Linked DNA regions of Homo sapiens: region 2 is linked to region 1. Evidence: fine-mapped expression QTL. A gene starts in region 1. The other region holds a variant in brackets. All regions are shown on one strand. Distances are between the middles of the regions.

The links. PIP is the estimated chance that this variant, and not a neighbour inherited with it, causes the effect.
Region 2: its variant is fine-mapped to the expression of HMGB3 in whole blood (TOPMed, PIP above 0.99). The same link has a PIP of 0.9 or more in blood mononuclear cells and monocytes.

Annotation. Positions count from the first base shown.
Region 1 is chrX:150,978,897-150,987,188 of GRCh38, forward strand. It overlaps HMGB3 (high mobility group box 3), which reads left to right and starts at 4,439. Exons shown (of 5, transcript NM_005342.4): 1 at 4,439-4,480; 2 at 6,699-6,853; 3 at 7,155-7,294; 4 at 8,232-8,292. The coding sequence starts at 6,704. RefSeq lists an enhancer at 3,453-4,148 and a silencer at 4,270-4,469.
Region 2 is chrX:150,764,341-150,772,663 of GRCh38, forward strand. MTMR1 (myotubularin related protein 1) reads left to right here. Exons shown (of 16, transcript NM_001306144.3): 16 at 1-768. It overlaps CD99L2 (CD99 molecule like 2), which reads right to left. Exons shown (of 11, transcript NM_031462.4): 10 at 5,964-6,029; 11 at 1,996-4,761. The coding sequence ends at 4,694. Among named protein-coding and RNA genes, the nearest start is that of MTMR1, 75 kb to the left of the region's middle. RefSeq lists a silencer at 3,348-3,457 and enhancers at 7,526-8,073, 8,074-8,323. The variant A/G (reference allele first, on the strand shown) is at 3,900.

The DNA.
Region 1 (8,292 bases):
AAGCTGGAGTTCAGTGGTACGATCTTGGCTCACTGCAACCTGTGCATCCTGGGTTCAAGCAATTCTCTGCCTCAGCCTCCTGAGTAGCCGGGATTACAGGTGCCCATCACCACGCCCAGCTAATTTTTGTATTTTTAGTAGAGATGGGGTTTCGCCATGTTGGCCAGGCTGGTCTCGAACTCCTGACCTCAGGTGATCCACCCACCTTGGCCTCCCCAAGTGCTGAGATTACAGGCGTGAGCCACCACATTTGGCCTACAGGCATGATTCTTTTTTTTTTTCTTTTTCTTTTTTTTGAGACGGAGTCTCACACTGTCACCCAGGCTGGAGTGCAGTGGCGCCATCTCTGCTCACTGCAACCTCAGCCTCTCAGGTTCAAGCGATTCTCCCCCCTGAGCCTCCTGAGTAGCTGGGATTACAGGCAGGTGCCACCACACCAGGCTAATTTTTGTATTTTTAGTAGAGATGGGATTTCACCTTGTTGGCCAGGCTGGTCTTGAACTCCTGACCTCAGGTGATCTGCCCACCATGGCCTCCCAAAGTGCTGGGATTACAGGCGTGAGCCACCGCACCCGGCCAGGCATGATTCTTAAAAGGAGGCTGGGTTGGCCCAAGGTACTCAAATGAAGACTTTGGGAACTGTGGGAGGGTGGGTGGAGTGTGTAGGCAGTGGGCCAGGGGACCAGGGTTTCATTTTTGTTGAACGATGAGGATTCCCCTTAGTCTTTTAGGGGCCTTGAACTGACAGGAACTGAAAACCTCTTTAAATAGCATTTGCCACACTTCATCCCATTTCTTATTTAATGTTTTCGTAACTTCTCTAGGCAGCCAAGCAGCTTAAGGGATTCTGGTTTGAGGTTCTCCTGTGTGGATGGGCTTTGCCTGTTTCCAGGTAGGGCCCGGGCAGAGGCCTAGAGTATCCTTCATTCCCTCAAGCCCTTGCACGCTGACCTGGGTGCTGCTGCTGGAGGTATCCTCAAGCTAACGGGCATTGAGCTTTGCTGCAGAGAAGGCAGCCTGCCTTGGGCTCCCTGAGTCTAGGGTGTGCCCAGGCATCCCTGGCTTTCTGTCACCTTTTCTTTCTTTTTTTCACCTTCCAAACTAGTCTTTAGGCCTCTCCTGGTTGGCCTTTGACTGGTGACAAGCAGACCGTCTTCACTCAGTCTCCCTCACCACCAAGACTGGCAGTGGTCTGGGTGGATGAGGCGGGTGGAATCACCTTTGATAGAGGACACTGAGGCTCGGAGCCCTCAGGTGACATGTGAAAAGGCATACCAGGAAATCAGTGACAGAGCCCAAAGCCTCTATCTTGTCCCTTCCTTCCAGCCTTACTCCCCACTCCATCTCATCTCCCTTCTGTTACTGATTAGTAGACATGCAATACATATACATGAAAGTTTCTGCTAAGGCAGGAGCCCACTGGGCCACAGGCCTTGCTCAGGCATGTCGCCGCACACGGGCAGGTGTTAAGGAGAAAATCTGGCTGTGAGGAGCCTCCATTGGTAGGTGGGTGGCTGGGGGGATGGGGAGGAGCAGGGAGCCATCTTTGGATCTCTGTCACTCAGTGATGTCATAGTCATGTTCTGTGAGTTCATGTTCTGACGATGACCAGTTTGTAGTTCAGCTTCAGGCCAAGTGCTTCAGCTCCATATAAGAGGTAGCTTTCTTGAGAGCAGAGATCGAAATATTTCCTATGCAAAGGATGGAAATACTTCCTGCGCGTAAGCGCAATCCTTTCATCATTCGAAGTATGTGGGGAGAAATAGATGGTCAATGGGCAGGGTTGGGGCAGTGGGGCAGGGAAGCATGGATCTTGAGGGTGGCAACTGGGGGCCAGTTTGGGTTGGGAGATGCTCTTATTTCTCTGGTTTGCCCTTGAAGCTGCTGCCTCTGGGAATGCCCTGGGTGTGCCCATACGTGAGTACGTGTATACATGTGCTGCTTGTGAGTTGGCATGGGCTTGTGTGACCCTTGTCATCCATCCAAGGGCCCACCACCCTGGTTCCCCCACCAAGGTGCCTGCCAACTGTGCCGTGTCACTTGCCACTGTGGGCAGTTGCTGGGCAGTAGCTGGACCCCAACTTGAATCTCTGGTCTAGAAAGGCCTGGCAACCTTGAGAGGCTAGGGTGCTCTGGCAGAGGCGAGGTATTGGTCAGATCACTTGTGGAAACCCTGCTCCCCTCTAGGCCTTGTGGAGACAGGGGAAGAGGGAGTGGCTTGGGCAGGTCAGGCCCTGGGAAACTGCTTGTAGAAGGAGCAGGGAGGGGCTGTCTGTCTGGAGAAAAGGCCTGGCCTGCCATGAACTATCTGAAGGGTGAGGGATTACCCTGTGTGGAGATGTTGACCTTAAGGCTCAGAGGTGGCTGGAGATGGAAGGAACTGCCATGAAGGAAGATGGTAAGCTCCCTATGAGTGGAGGTATGCAAGCAGAAGGCAGGCAACCACTAAGCTGGTTCTAACAGGACAGAGGGATGGATGAGGTGGCCTTAAGATCTCTGAACTCCTGAGTCTGTAGTGGGGACCTGGGTTAGTGACACAATACCTGCCTGCTCTTGTCAAAAGCAGCACTATCTCTGCCTTTTTTTTTTTTTTTTCGGAGTCTTGCTCTGTTGCCCAGGCTGGAGTGCAGTAGCATGATCTTGGCTCACTGCAACCTCCACCTCCCAGGTTAAAGCGATTCTCCTGCCTCAGCCTCCTACAGGCATGCATCACCACACCTGGCTAATTTTTTTGTATTTTTAGTAGAGACGGGGCTTCATCAGATTGGCCAGGCTGGTCTTGAACTCCTGATCTCGTGATCCGCCTGCCTCAGCCTCCCAAAGTACTGGAATTACAGGCATGAGCCACCGCGCTTGGCCTCTATCTTTGCCTTTTGATCTGGATTGGAACCTTGATGATGGGAGCCAACAGCACCAGCTTCAGGGGCTCAGGCTTGGCTGGGAGGCTCAGAGGAGTTGGTAAGAGGGGGCGTAGGGGTGAAGAAGCAGGTGCCCTGTGAAGCCAGATCCTTTGCACACCTCAAACTCAGCCACGGTTTCTGGAAGCAGCATTTGGAAAATTCATGTTCTGGTGGGGCTTATTTCTGAATATAGGACTCATAAATAGCTGGATCTCTTGGCCTTTCAAAGAAAAGAAAAACCAAACTCATGACATCTCTTCCTTTGCATTATTTTCTCCAACTGTCAATCTTTAAACTGCTCTTTTTCTCACCCTTTCATTCTTTCCAGGCAAGGGCCCTCAGATACTTTCTTTCCAAATAGGGCTGATACTTGCATTTGAAGTGGAGTATTTCTTCCTTGCGTGGGACTGTCCTATGCAATGTAGGATATTTAGTATCCCCGGCCGTTCCTTCCTCTTATTGAATTCCAGCAACACCTGCCAGTCATCCAGGCACCGGCCCCACGAATTTCAGAACATCCCTTACAGAAGTGACACTGCGGCTCCTATACTTTGAAAAACATTGCCTGAATCCCCAAAGAAGTGACTAGCTCAAGGCCATACCACCAGCCAATGGCAAAGTGGAGATCAAGTCAAATCCCATTCATTCATTCATTCACTCATTCATTCCCGAAGCTTTAATTCTTTGCTCTAGGGTGTGTCAGGAGAGCAGAGGGAATGAGGGCCTTGAACCGAGACAGTGAAGAGGGTAAGAAGAAAAGTGTTATTCTTTGCCCACAAAACTACAATTTCTCACAAATTCTCTGCTCTTGCCAAATTTTGTTTTCCTCTTTTAGCCCGTCGGTTCCGCAATTTCGGGCGCAAATAAAGACCTTCTGGCATTTAGTGGAAAGAGCCTAGTTGAGCACGATCCGCAGAAGCGGAATCAGGTGGCTTTCGGATAGGCAGCGAGATCCGAGGACTAAATCCCGAGGTCTTGGCGAGCAAGCAGCTGCCCTCCGCCAGGCATCGAGGAGCGAGCTGCCGCCGCGTTTCTGTCGCGGCGCCGCGGCCGAACCGGGTAGAGGTGGTCTACCATCGGCCCTTCGTGGTGGGCCCAGGGGTGTTTCCCCGGGCAGGGGAGCTGACTGCAGGCCAGGGGCGCCAAGGCCGCGGTGCGGTGGGAGCAGAGGGCAGCGCAGCGGGGCTGGACTTCATCTTCCCACGCCAGAGGCCGAGGCCTCCGGGAATCGCAGGGCCACCTCTTCAAAGCCCTTGGCGATCCCAGTTCTGTTCCCCGAGGGGGCTGGCGAGGTGGGCGGGGCGGGCAGGCGAGACTAGGTCTTTCCCTGTTTGGCCTCCGTAGCCGGCGCCGGCGGGTCGTTCTGTTTGAATGAATGATCCCAGCAGCCGCGCCCAATGGGCGTCCACGCCTGCTTAATATGCATGAGGCCCGCAGCCAATGGCCAGGCGAGGAGGCTGTTTTAAACGGCAGAGCCCGCTGGCCAATCAGGCGGCTCTCGTGGAGGCAGCTAGCGCGAGGCTGGGGAGCGCTGAGCCGCGCGTCGTGCCCTGCGCTGCCCAGACTAGCGAACAATACAGGTACGTCTCGCACCGCCCGCTCCCGCCGCCGCCGCCGCCGCCGCCGCCGCCGCCGCCGCCGCCGCCGCCGCCGCCGCAGCGCCCGCACAACTTTCCGGCCCGCGCCGCCGTGAGCGCGCCCTGCCGCCGCCTCCCCCTGCCTCTACTCCCCATTCCCTTCCCGCCCCCTCCGCCTTCCCTCCTGCTAGGCGGCCGGGAAGGAAGAAGCAATTCAGGTGTTTCAACTTTTCCAACGCGTTCCCCGAGCTCCCCGCTTTCGGGGGTCGGCCCCCTCGGCGGACGCCCGCCCGTGGCGGCCCCAGGGGCCGCAGCCGGGAACCCAGGGCCCCCGAGGCCAGATGTTTGGGCAGCTGCGGCTGCGGCGGCTGGGCGAGCAGAGGGGCGGCTGCGGGCTGTGGGCGCTGGGCGGCGGCAGCGGGAAGGGGGCCGGGAGTTCCCCGGCCCGCGACGGACTCCGCTGGGGAACGGGCGGCCGGTGCCCGCCGGGGGCTGCGCGGCTGGTGCCCGCCGGGGGCCGCCGCACGGGCAAACTTCGCTCCCGGGCTTGGCCCGGCGCCGCGCGGGCCCGCAGGCTACGCCGCTGGCTCTGCGTTAACATGGCCGTCGCGGAGCGCCCGGTGGCCCGGGGGGGCGCGGGCCGGCCGCCCCCCTCTCGCCTCCCGCCCGCCCGGCGCCGCCGCCGCCGCTAACATGGCTGGCGCGGCGCTGGCCTCCGGCGAGGGCAGGGGAGGCGGGCGGAGCGGTCGGCGGGGCGCCCGGCGGGCTCCGGCCTCGGCCCCGGCGCCCGCGGCCCGGGGCGGGCGGCTCGGAGGGCCGGGGGCGCCGCTGCGGGCCCTGGAGCGGCCGAGCGTCATGGCTGCACGGGCGCCTTTGTTATCCCGAGGAGTGCGCCCCGCGCCGGGGGGCGGGGAGGTCCGGCCCGGGCCCCCGAGCCCCCGGGCGGCCCGGGCGGGGCGGGGCGGGGCGGGGTGGGGGCCGACGGGCGGGCGGCGGCGGCGGGGCCCGGGCCGCTTTGTTCGCCGCTGTCGCCGCCGCCCGCGCCGGCCGCGCGCGGATCAGCCATTTTAGCGAGTGGGACTCCGAGGCGCGGCGGACGCCGCCACCAGTGCCGCGGCTGCCGCCGGCCCGGCCGCACACCCCCCGCGCACCGCCACCGCCGCCGCCCCCGGCCCCGCGCGTCCCCCGGGGATGACAGCGGCGGATTTCAGGGGCACTTTCTTTCATCAGGAGGCTTTTGACAAAATGGAAGGTGAATTACGGGTGTCCCGGTGACCCGGCACGGGGGCCGAGGCGGGCTGCCTGCTGCCGGCCGGGACTCCCCCGCTCCCGGTCCCGCCCCGCCCGGGCCGCCGCTGCGGGTCTCTGTTGGGCAGCCTCCTGGGCGGCTGCTGCCAAGGGGAGCTCTTTAGTTTTACATGATGACCTTGGGTGTGGGAAAAGGAAAAGATGGCGGGAAGCTGGGGGGTGGGACAGGGACGATGACATGCCGCAGCTGCATTTTTATTTGGAAACTTTGGAGAAAGTGTTCTCGGCTGGACCTGCATTCTGGGTTACAGATGAGCACGACTAGCCCTTTTTATACACCCTCCCCCTTTAGATAGTGACGAAGTGATGAATTGAACTAATAGTACGGGGGTACCTGCTCACTTTCCAGATCTCCCGTGTTGTAAAGCCGTTTTTTTAGTAAGCCAAAACACATCAACAATAGTGACAATTTCAGATGTCCCCTACGTATAGTTCTCCTGCTTTGGTCTTGTGTTCAGCAGTGGTAAGAGTTGTTGTTTTTAATTGTGTTAACAGTTAGCAGATGACCAGATAGTCTTAAGTCATAGATTTCAAGCTTCTATCACCCCCACCAAATGTGTCCTCTCTCTACCCTTCCCACTTTGTGATTGTAGTTTCCAAAACATAGCAGTTCTGTAAACGTAACACTGAGTACCCTACTTGGGTCGGCTCCATTTGGAGCACTTGATCGCTTTTGAGAAGTAACTCGCAAACCAGCGCGCTTCGTGCTGGTCAAAAGTTAAATGACAAGCGACAATGAAGCTGATTTCTTTCCTACTCTGCCTTCTGCCACTGGTGTCCGGCATTGGGGGAAGGGGACTTCCTAACAGCAAGTGTAGTTTTAGTTTTGCTCTGCCTTTGGTACGTCTTGTACTTCTTGTCAATTCCTCCTTGCTTTTCCTCATTGTATTTCTTTGTTTCTCTTTTATCACAGTCAGGATGGCTAAAGGTGACCCCAAGAAACCAAAGGGCAAGATGTCCGCTTATGCCTTCTTTGTGCAGACATGCAGAGAAGAACATAAGAAGAAAAACCCAGAGGTCCCTGTCAATTTTGCGGAATTTTCCAAGAAGTGCTCTGAGAGGTGGAAGGTATTTTTCTTTGGTACCCTTCAAACTAGTCTTAGTTGGGTTTCTTACTTTGGGGTTACTTACCTTCAGATTTTCTCCCAGATAGCTGCTTGCTTCCTCTTTTACTTTTACTTAGAATCATTTTTGCTTGTCTTAAGAATTTTGTGTGTGTGCTTTTATTTTTTTAAGGCCCTGCACAGGTTTCAGGCCTTTACCTACCCCCTTTTGCAAGTGGTTCTAGCAACTGCTAGTTTAATCACAAGAAACTGAATAGGTATGTGTTCACTGCATCGAGGGATTTAACGAGTCCTGTTCTTTGCAGACGATGTCCGGGAAAGAGAAATCTAAATTTGATGAAATGGCAAAGGCAGATAAAGTGCGCTATGATCGGGAAATGAAGGATTATGGACCAGCTAAGGGAGGCAAGAAGAAGAAGGATCCTAATGCTCCCAAAAGGCCACCGTAAGTGACTATAGGATTCAAGATAACAATTAATACCTTTTCTTCTGCTTGGAGGATTTGGTTTTTTGGTCGTCCTGTATTTCATTTCAAAATGAAATATTTTTTAAAAGATACTTAAAAGATGGCAATACCTCTGCAAACCATTCTGTACTTGGGCTTTACGATGCAGTGCCAGCGTTGTCTGTGGTTAAGGCTGAAGTGTTTGTGGGCTGTGCTTGCACATTCACAGTGGTTGTCTGTTGGCCTTTCCATTGTGAAGGAGGCACTCTAGTTTTGGTTGTCAGGGTCCTTGAAGTATGTTCTTTATGCCTTTCCTAGTAATTGAAAGACTGGGACAGCACCATATATATATGCGCGTATATATACGCATATGTATTATATATGCATACACACACACAGAGCACCATATATATATGCGCGTATATATACGCATATATTTTATATATGCATACACACACACACGCATACATATTTGAGATGGAGTTTCGCTCTTGACCAGGCTGGAGTGCAAGGTGTGATCTTGGCTCACTGCAACCTCCACCTCCTGGGTTCAAGTGATTCTCCTGCCTCAGCCTCCTGAGTAGCTGGGATTACAGACATGCACCACCATGCCCGGCTAATTTTTTTTATATTTTTAGTAGAGACGGGGTTTCTCCATGTTGGTCAGGCTGGTCTGAAACTCCCAACCTCAGGTGATCCGCCTGCCTCGGCCTCCCAAAGTGCTGGAATTACAGGCGTGAGCCGCGCACCACATATTTTTCTAACCTTATATATTTTAGAACCTACAACTTTGTAGCATTGTATATGGTATCATAGATTACTTCACTTTAGGGAGAAGTCATAGTGGTAGGAGGGAGATGCTTCTCAGGAATGTGGGATTTCAACTTTAACTCAAATTTTTTGTGGTTTCTCATGTAATGTATGTAATTCTTCCAAGGTCTGGATTCTTCCTGTTCTGTTCAGAATTCCGCCCCAAGATCAAATCCACAAACCCCGGC
Region 2 (8,323 bases), 210 kb before region 1:
CCTAAAATCAATTCTCCATTTTTTATCATATGTGGGATTTGTTGCTAAGTCGTGTTCAACAATAGCTTTTATGTTCCTAACATATCTGAAAGCTTATTTATGAATGGATATACTGGATTATTGATATACTGATTTTTTTTTTAATGGGGACATTTGCCATTTTCTTCCCAGAAATATGTAATCCCCTGGCTGACTAGGACTGTTAAACATAGTGTGGACTGGATGATGCCTTCGACAAACCAGAGAAGCCAAGTTGGGGGGAGCTGGTGCCTGGAGTGGGCCCTGTGCACCTCACCTGGCGGAGGCTGGGGGGGGCTCTGTCAGCAGGACCCTAGAGGAGACTCTCATTCGATTTTAAAGAAGCACAACGGGTCATTTTCCTTTGTATGTTCCTAGCGCAGAACTGTTTCTAAAACAACTTGAAGTATAGTTTTGTTATCTAAGCAATTTTTGTTTTAAGTAAGTAAGTGTACTAGAATGCGAAGCCGTTATGGTTCAGGTTTTTAAAAACTGGTACAGTATTGTATTTGTCTCATCTGTTGCACTGTATTTCAATCATCTGTAATTAAAATGATCATATGTTTGCTCCCTGGTCTTTTTTAAGTAAGTAAGTAAGTATCTTAGTAGATTTTTCCTTTGAGGAAAATCGGTAATAAAATAACATGGATTGAATGTTTACTGTGCGTCAAGCACAGTTAATATATGATGATGTAAAGTAACTAACTTTATGTGATTTAATTCATTCAGTAAATTGTAAATGTATCATGAGTCTTAAGTAAGTAAGTAAGTAAGTAAGTAAGTATTTTGGCTGAAACAGGAAATACTGATTGATTGATTGATTGATTGATTGATGATTGTAAAGTCAGAAACGCCCTCAGCTCTAACCTTGAGAAAACGTGGACGACTTGGGGAAAGGTCTGGAGACACCTGAGAGGAGCCAGTCAGGGTGATGAGTCCTTCGCATGCAAGTGCAGTGCTCTCTAAGGCCTCAGACTGCCCCCACCCCAAAGGAAGGGGCGTTCACCTTTTCAGGGCCACGAAGGCCTGGATGAAATCACACCACCCCCTGTGCCCTCTGTGTGTTGTCGGTCTTCTTGTTAAGGGTGTGGGGTCCCTGTCCCTCTCCACACACGTTACTACTGAGTGAGCCAGAGAGCCCGGTATTCACTGGGCACAGAGGATGCCCAGGGGACTGCTTGCCAGCCAGCCTTCCCCAGCAGTGAGACCATAGCAGCTAGCCATGCAGAACTCCTGCACGAGACAGGCATATGGTGGTCTCGGGTTTGAGAGGACCTGATGCTATTATTTCACTAGAAGCCGAGGTTGGCAAAACAAAATGAAAAAACAAACAACCGACCTCCATGTTAAAACCCAGGGTCCACTGCATCTTGTTTGTTTTCATGCTGAAATGCCCTGAACTGAACTGTCGTCTTCTCAATTTGAAGCCAACATGCGAGCTGATGAGAAGGACATACTTCATCCCAAACGGGCCACTCTCCATGAGGCTGCAACAAGTGACGAGGTGCAGGGCTCCTTTCTCACCCAGCTTTCTGGTTGAAAAACAACTGCGCGTTAACTGGAACCTCCACTGGTTACCAGCCTGCTTGGAAGGCGGCAGAGCAGTCGACTTGGGATTTGTGAGCCTGGGACTTTTTGCTGCTTCCAGGCCCCGGACTGCGCAACCCATGTAGCCCGGGAGCGGCCCCGCAGCACTCTGCTCCTGCCTCTGCCCTCTCTAACCCCAGGACATTGGTCGCTCCACATCCCCTGGCCTTAGCTGCTTGTACGGTGAGGAGTCACCCTTGGAAGTCCTGACACTGAGCCAGTCACTGAGGGGTAAATGCAAGAATTCTAAGCTTCTCGAGAAATACCTTCAGCTGGGGGCGGGGCGGGGGGAGGGGGAGGAGGGCAGCTCTGCATCATAAATTACTTACTTTAGGGAAAAGTGGCAACACTTGACCAAGGGCGTGCCTTAACACCATCAGAAGACAAGAATCTGCTCGGTGCCATTTTATTTAATGCAAACACTAGACAGTTTACAAGTCACACCTGGACACAAGCACGTGAACAGATGTACAGGGAATTCTGGAATTTTGAGATCAGTCCCCATTTCTTCCTCAGGGCCCTGGCACTGAACCCCAGCCCCTGTCCCAGAGCCTCCCCTCTGGGTCCCACCCCAGAAGCCACGCACACCTCCTTCCGCCCAGCTTTATCTTTCCTTGAGCTGTGACTTCACCCAGCATGTGCTCAGAGTTGTTACAAATTTTCTCTGCCAAATTAAGCTGATAGAGATTGGCCACTTTCAACCAGTCCTTTCAGTCCACTGTGTCTCCCCTCTCGCTTGGGACAGGCCCATGCTGGCCAGTGCAACCTTCAGATAGACACATGGTGACCAGAGCCCGCCAGGCTTCTGCAGGTGGCAGTGTCGAGCAAGTGTAAGATGTCTGTGGGAAGGAGAAGCTCCTGAAATGAACGTTCTGCAAACAGAAGGCTGAGGGGTCTTCCAGGCATGTCCAGTCACTAGGAGCTGCCACCGGTGGGCTTGAGTGCCAGGCTCTAGGCTTTGTGCAGAAAGCACCCGGGGCGGGGGGCGGTAAGGGAGAGCAAAATGGGTCTCTCTCAACTGCAGTCAGTGCTCCTGGGAACACGGTCTCACAGACAGCACATATTCTACGTCACAGCTCTAGGGTTTCAAGGACTTAGCCATCCGACAGGCCTCACCATAAAGGTAAAGTGGACAACCCCTGAGGTCACGCTGTCCAGGTGGCGACAGGCCACGCATGCCAAAATCCTCCATAGCCACCTCCGGCCCAGCACCAGCCAGAGGGTGGGGCCATCGGTTCTCGACATACTTGGTATCAGGGAGGGACAAGCCTGACAAAGTTCACAATCTGGCCAATGAGTGTGGGAGGCCCTGGAAACAGGCCAATCCTGCAAGCCACCCCACCCTTACTAACTTCCTGAAGCATGGGAAGCTTCTCGAGACCAGGCCAAGGTTTCTTTCCTTCATGGCACCACGCAGAGGCATTTCTGCAGTGCTGCAGGTCCCCCTTCAGCCACACAGTCCAGGTCTGTCAGGGATTAAAGGGCCGAGCAGGAAAAGGGGTGGTAAGGAGCTCAAGGGCACGCACTGGGAATGGCCTCACAAGGCAGCCTTGAGACGCACAGGGCTACAACTGACCACCCTCCACCACAGGCATGTTTGCAAAACGAACACGAGGCATGCGTTAGACAGATGCATGTGGGGGCTGCAGATTCCAGTGGTTTCCTTAAGAAACTGGAGTTGGCTCATCCCACTCAGCAGACAATCCCGCTCAGTGGACAGCCTATGAAACGCATGGGGCCATCATGCAGACCAAAGAGGCCCGTGAGTTTTGTAAGATCCTGCCTGTCTGGTGACTCATATCTGCTTTCAGAAGTGCTTTCTGACACAGCAAACTGACTATCAGTAGACAGGGGCCCTAGACCCTAGCATGTGGTTCTGTCCCGTGAGCCTCTGACAACAGAGCTCACCGGGACAGAACCATATGTGGGCCAAAGGAACATTCCAGGAAACCAGCTCTGCTCCAGCCCAAACCAGGCAGCTCCACGCCAGGTGAGGGGCGAGTCATGGGGTTCCTGTGTTTGCCACGGTGAGCATGGCTCCCCACGCACTCTCCCTCAGAGCAGACAAGTAGGCTGACCACAGAGCTACAAAGTCACCTGCGTTTCACTAAACCAAGCGAATGTCTCTTTCCCCTCTCCTCCCCCGCCGCCCCCAATTACATTTTTAAGCAAACAAGCAGGATTCTGGCTTTGATGCTCGTTCTTGACATCGGTCACTCTTGCTACCAAAACAGGGACACAGGGTGGAGGGTGAGCACCTCTCCCCAACACAGGATAAAACTCATCTCCGGTGC[A/G]GAAATGATTGCTAAAGACCTTTCTCATGTCAACCCGAAGGCCACACCCAGCCCCCTATGGAATCAGATGGGAAACAGGCCTACGAATTGCTTCATACTTATCCGGAAGATTCCTAAGCTCTCAAGGCAGGACTATCACGAGATGCATGTTTGTACTTAAATCACTGAAAGCCTCCGCTTGGACCGGCTCTCCGGAAGCCCAGCAACATAAAACCTGGGATGGGGAAGACTGAAGTGAAACCATCATCCTGGGTGCTGCGTGTGTGTGGTGTTACTTGGTGCTGACCGGTTCGCTCCTTGCAGGGGCTCCAAGTGGGTGCAGGCTGAGCCCCCCACCTGCAGCTCCTTGAGGCCACTGTCAGGGGCTGTCTATTGGCAGAAACCTGCCACAATGAGCCACTCCAGTGTGCAGGGGTCACAGTCCCTTGAGTTCAAACTCTTGTCCCCTAAGCATAAATGTCATCAGGCCTCAGCATCATCTTGGCCCCCGCATCCTGTGCTCAGTAAAGCTGGAGGCAGGCTGGCTTTGGGAGTTGGTGGCTCAGCAGCTCCCGAGGCTGGTGCTGGCTTTCTATCAGAGCTGGCTCTTGAATTTCGGCACCAAGTCTCAGCACGCTTGGGGCAGGGCAGAGAAACCAAACTCACAAACACCCAGAGCTCATCCGGGAAACTCAGACCAACAAGGAGCCGATGGCACAGAGCAGCACAGCAGCTGCGGGTCCAAATGAAGGGGTGGGGGGAGCCGGGTGACAAGCGGTGGCACCATTGTGCATGCCTGCAGCTGGACAGGGCCCTCAGATCCGGGCTGGTTCGGGCGGCGGCGGCGGCTCTGCAGACTGCGTGTGCAACGTGGAGTATTTCACTAGGGGAAAAAGAGGCCGTCAGAAGGAATTCTGCTCTGTCTTGCACAGAAGAAGCAAATACAGCAGCAAGCCCGTGCTGGGAACAGAACTGGGTTTCCCTTTGTATCCCCTGGGGGGCCGCTTAGCAACCTTCCCTCCTGAGCCTGGGAGCAGTTTTGGGCCGGTCAAGGGGAGAGAAAGAGAAAGCTGGACAGGCTCTGGAAACAGCTCAGCCTCCATCTCCTCACCTAAAAAATGAGCGTGTTCCTGCCAGCGCTGCTGGAAGGGTTATTTTAAACAAAGGGCTCAACCTAGCACCTGCCCACACAGATGCTGGCCTCGTGGTGGCTAACCGTGGCAAAGCTCATGACAGTGGATGCGACAGCGGAATCCATTTTTCCACATCTGAACCCAGGCCTATTTTAGTTCATTTGGTGCAGCACTGCCACCCGTCTTCAGCAGCATTGTAGGGCACCTGGCTCCCAGTACACACCACACAGGCTGAGCCCCTCCTGGTCTCCCAGGCCCAGTCCCCACGGCTGCTGCACTGTAGTTCCACTGGCAACACTCGCCTGAGCTGTCCTAGTCTCCCTGCCTGCGCCACCAGGCCTCGGCTGCTCCCCGACCCCAGCAAGCCTTTCCGGACCTCCTCATTGGCATCCCGTGGGCACAGGTCATATCTGCCTCGAGCAGTTGGGCACTCTAGGCCTGTGGCCTGAACTTATGCGACCTCAAATTGCCAACAGCTCCTGAATCCAGAAAGTGCTTGATGACCACAGAAGGGGGAGGGAGGGGCACAGGTGTTGACAATAGGGTCTGGGTTTTACCCAAGTTCCCTCTTGCCTGTGGCAATTTGCAAAGGGAAAAGTTCTAGGTCTAGGTGAAAAGCTTCCCCATGGCTCTGTTCAGGATGTAATTGTATTCGCTGATGGGGAGCAGAGGTGCCTGGGGCTCTGGCTCGGACGGACGAATCAAGGGCAGGGGCCGAGCAGCCGCAATGCCCAGAAGTCACAGGCATGGCAGCAGATGGCCCTGGCTGTCACCCCAGCATCTTTGGGCTCCTGAAACTGGGAGGCAGGCTCATCAGGGCAGGCTTTTGCTCTGGCCGGACATTCTAGAAGCAGACGCCTCTGTGCTTCCCTGCTTCTCTAGCACAGTTCTGCTCAGTGCTGGGACCAACTAGGAAAGCGTCAGCAAGGGACAGTGAGTACAAAGTTCTCACCTTGGGGTTCCTCACATACCACGGCTTCCAGGTTCTCTCCCTTCACGTAGTCTGCGTTGAGACCCTCTGCAAAGGGAAAAGGGCAGAGTTAGTGATGCGCACAGGACCTAAGGGTCCCCAATCGTGACTGAGAACTCCTGACCAAGTCCTCTGCAGCTAAAAAAGCAGCACAGCTCCCCTGGGGAACTCAAAACCCTGCACCCTGAGCCACCTGAACATCCTTATCCGGATGAAGACTGTTCGTCCCAGAATTCACTGCCCAGGAGTTCTCATCATCGTCCTCAGAAATAACAACGACATGCAGCGAAGGCTTCCGGCACTCCATCCTCATAGGGCAGCTGCCACCGCGTCAAGACGGCAGCTCCGCCCAGTGGAGGGGGCGCCCGATGGCAGGGCTCAGCACCATCCACAGGTCCGTGTGCGTGTGCGGCCCGGGGGCCAGGGAGCCAATCGCTATGAGTGATTGATGGATGCAGGGCAGGGAGGGGCGGATGGCTGAGTGGGGCTCAGCATGTAGATGCAGCAAAGCCTCCTGCCAACATGCAGCCTCCCAGCAACACCCGCGCGGAGGCCAACTGCTCCTCCCAGCAGCAGGAATAACCGCTGTGTCCACCTGAGCTTGGAGGGGCCAGCCCACCAGCAGCTGCTTCAGTCTAGTTAGTTATCTAGGCTTTCTCTACACCTGTTACAAGAGGGATTCGGGGACTGTACCAAGCATTCCCTCCCGCCAGCAAGGGCCAGTGTTCAAGTTCTTAGAGTGGACCCCACCCCTGCTGCTGCTTGCAGAGAGTCAAGAGTCTGTGTCTCATCCCTGCGTAGCACAGGGACTGGAACCCTTCAGCCCCGGGTCTGTGGGAAAACTGGGGCATGGTTCCAACCGACCGACCGACCGACCAGGCACCAGTGCAAGTCAAGCCATCGTCCTGGGCTACAGGCTCCTTGCCTAAACAAGAATGCCCACCACCTGCCTGCCCCGGTGGCTGCTGGGCTTGAGGTGGGAGCCAAATGGGCCTGTGGCAAATGCGGGCGTTGCTCTTTGGCAGGTGTGGCCGGCCCCACGCAGAGCGGGGCAGGTGATGAGTGCAGTGGAAGCTGCCCCAGGTGCACCTTCCCAGCTGACAGGTGGGGGCCAGGAGACACACCCTGAGCCTCGTGATCACTGCTAGCTGCCAACCCAGTGGGCGCTGGATCGTCTCCTTCCTGTGGGTGGCCCTCTATGTGCTCCCCAGGCATGACCACCAGTGGGCACCTGAGTCCTCACCATGGCACCTCAACTCTCCCCCCACCCCTGCCACATCCAGCCTGGGGACAGAGTGTCTGGCAGGTGGCATCCTCTCACACGCATCAGGGTAAGCTAAAGATGGTCCTGGTTACAGCCACGTCGGTGAGTGCCAGGGAAGCAGGAGGGAGAAGAGCGGCAAGGAAGCGCCAGAGCAGGGGGCGAATGAGGAAGCATCAAGGCTGAAGCAAAAGGAAAGTGAGGAAGGCAAAGCAGCGTTACCTTGACCTGCTGCTGCATCTGAAGGCAAGACACAAAGCTTAGAATCCCTGGAGTAAGAGCGCTCCTGACAGCAAACATGCGGGCTTTCCACACTGAGGGCAAAGGCAAGGGAAGCCAAGGGTCCCCAGCATGGGCCTTTTGGCAGCAGCAGAGGCCGAGAGCACCTGAGGGCCACAGTGGTGGGGGCAGGCCTTCCTCGCAGCCACCTCCTGCTGTCTCCCCAGAGCTTGGTGTTCTGCACCCCGGTCCCCTCTACCGCCATCTCCATGTGGCAGTGGCTGAGACTCAGGGGAAAGAGTGGGGACAGGAGGCCCAACCCCCAGCTTCTCAGTGTTTTCAGCCACCCCACAAACGTCTGCGGGACTCCTCCTGATTCTGGCCCGGGCCAGGTGCCAGGGACATGATGTACACGCAGCCCCGCCACGGAATGGACGGTCCAGAGACTCCTGATCACGGAGGGGGCAAGGCGAGCTGGGAGTCGCACACTCAGAAACCAACCGGCCCAATCCCGCCCCATGAGCACCAGGTGAGGTCAGCAGGGGGCGCTGTAGGACCACAGGCTGGGAGAGGCTGCTCCAGGCCTGCAGGGCGAGAGGAGCTAGGTCAGGACGGGGGACAGCAGAGGCCCGGGATGGGGATGGAAGAGCACCTGGCGCCCTCGGGAAGTGAAAGGCCTCTGGGAAGCCTATGGAGGGGAAAGGATGTGGTTGGGACCAAACCATGAAGGGCTTCCACTGCCAAACTCAGGCTCAGCCAGGACCTTGAGGGCAGCAGGAAGCATAAGGGGGATCCAGGCATTTTAAAACAGGTCCCGCTGGAGGAGCGTGAGGTGTGGAGGAGACTGCACAGGCAAAAAGGT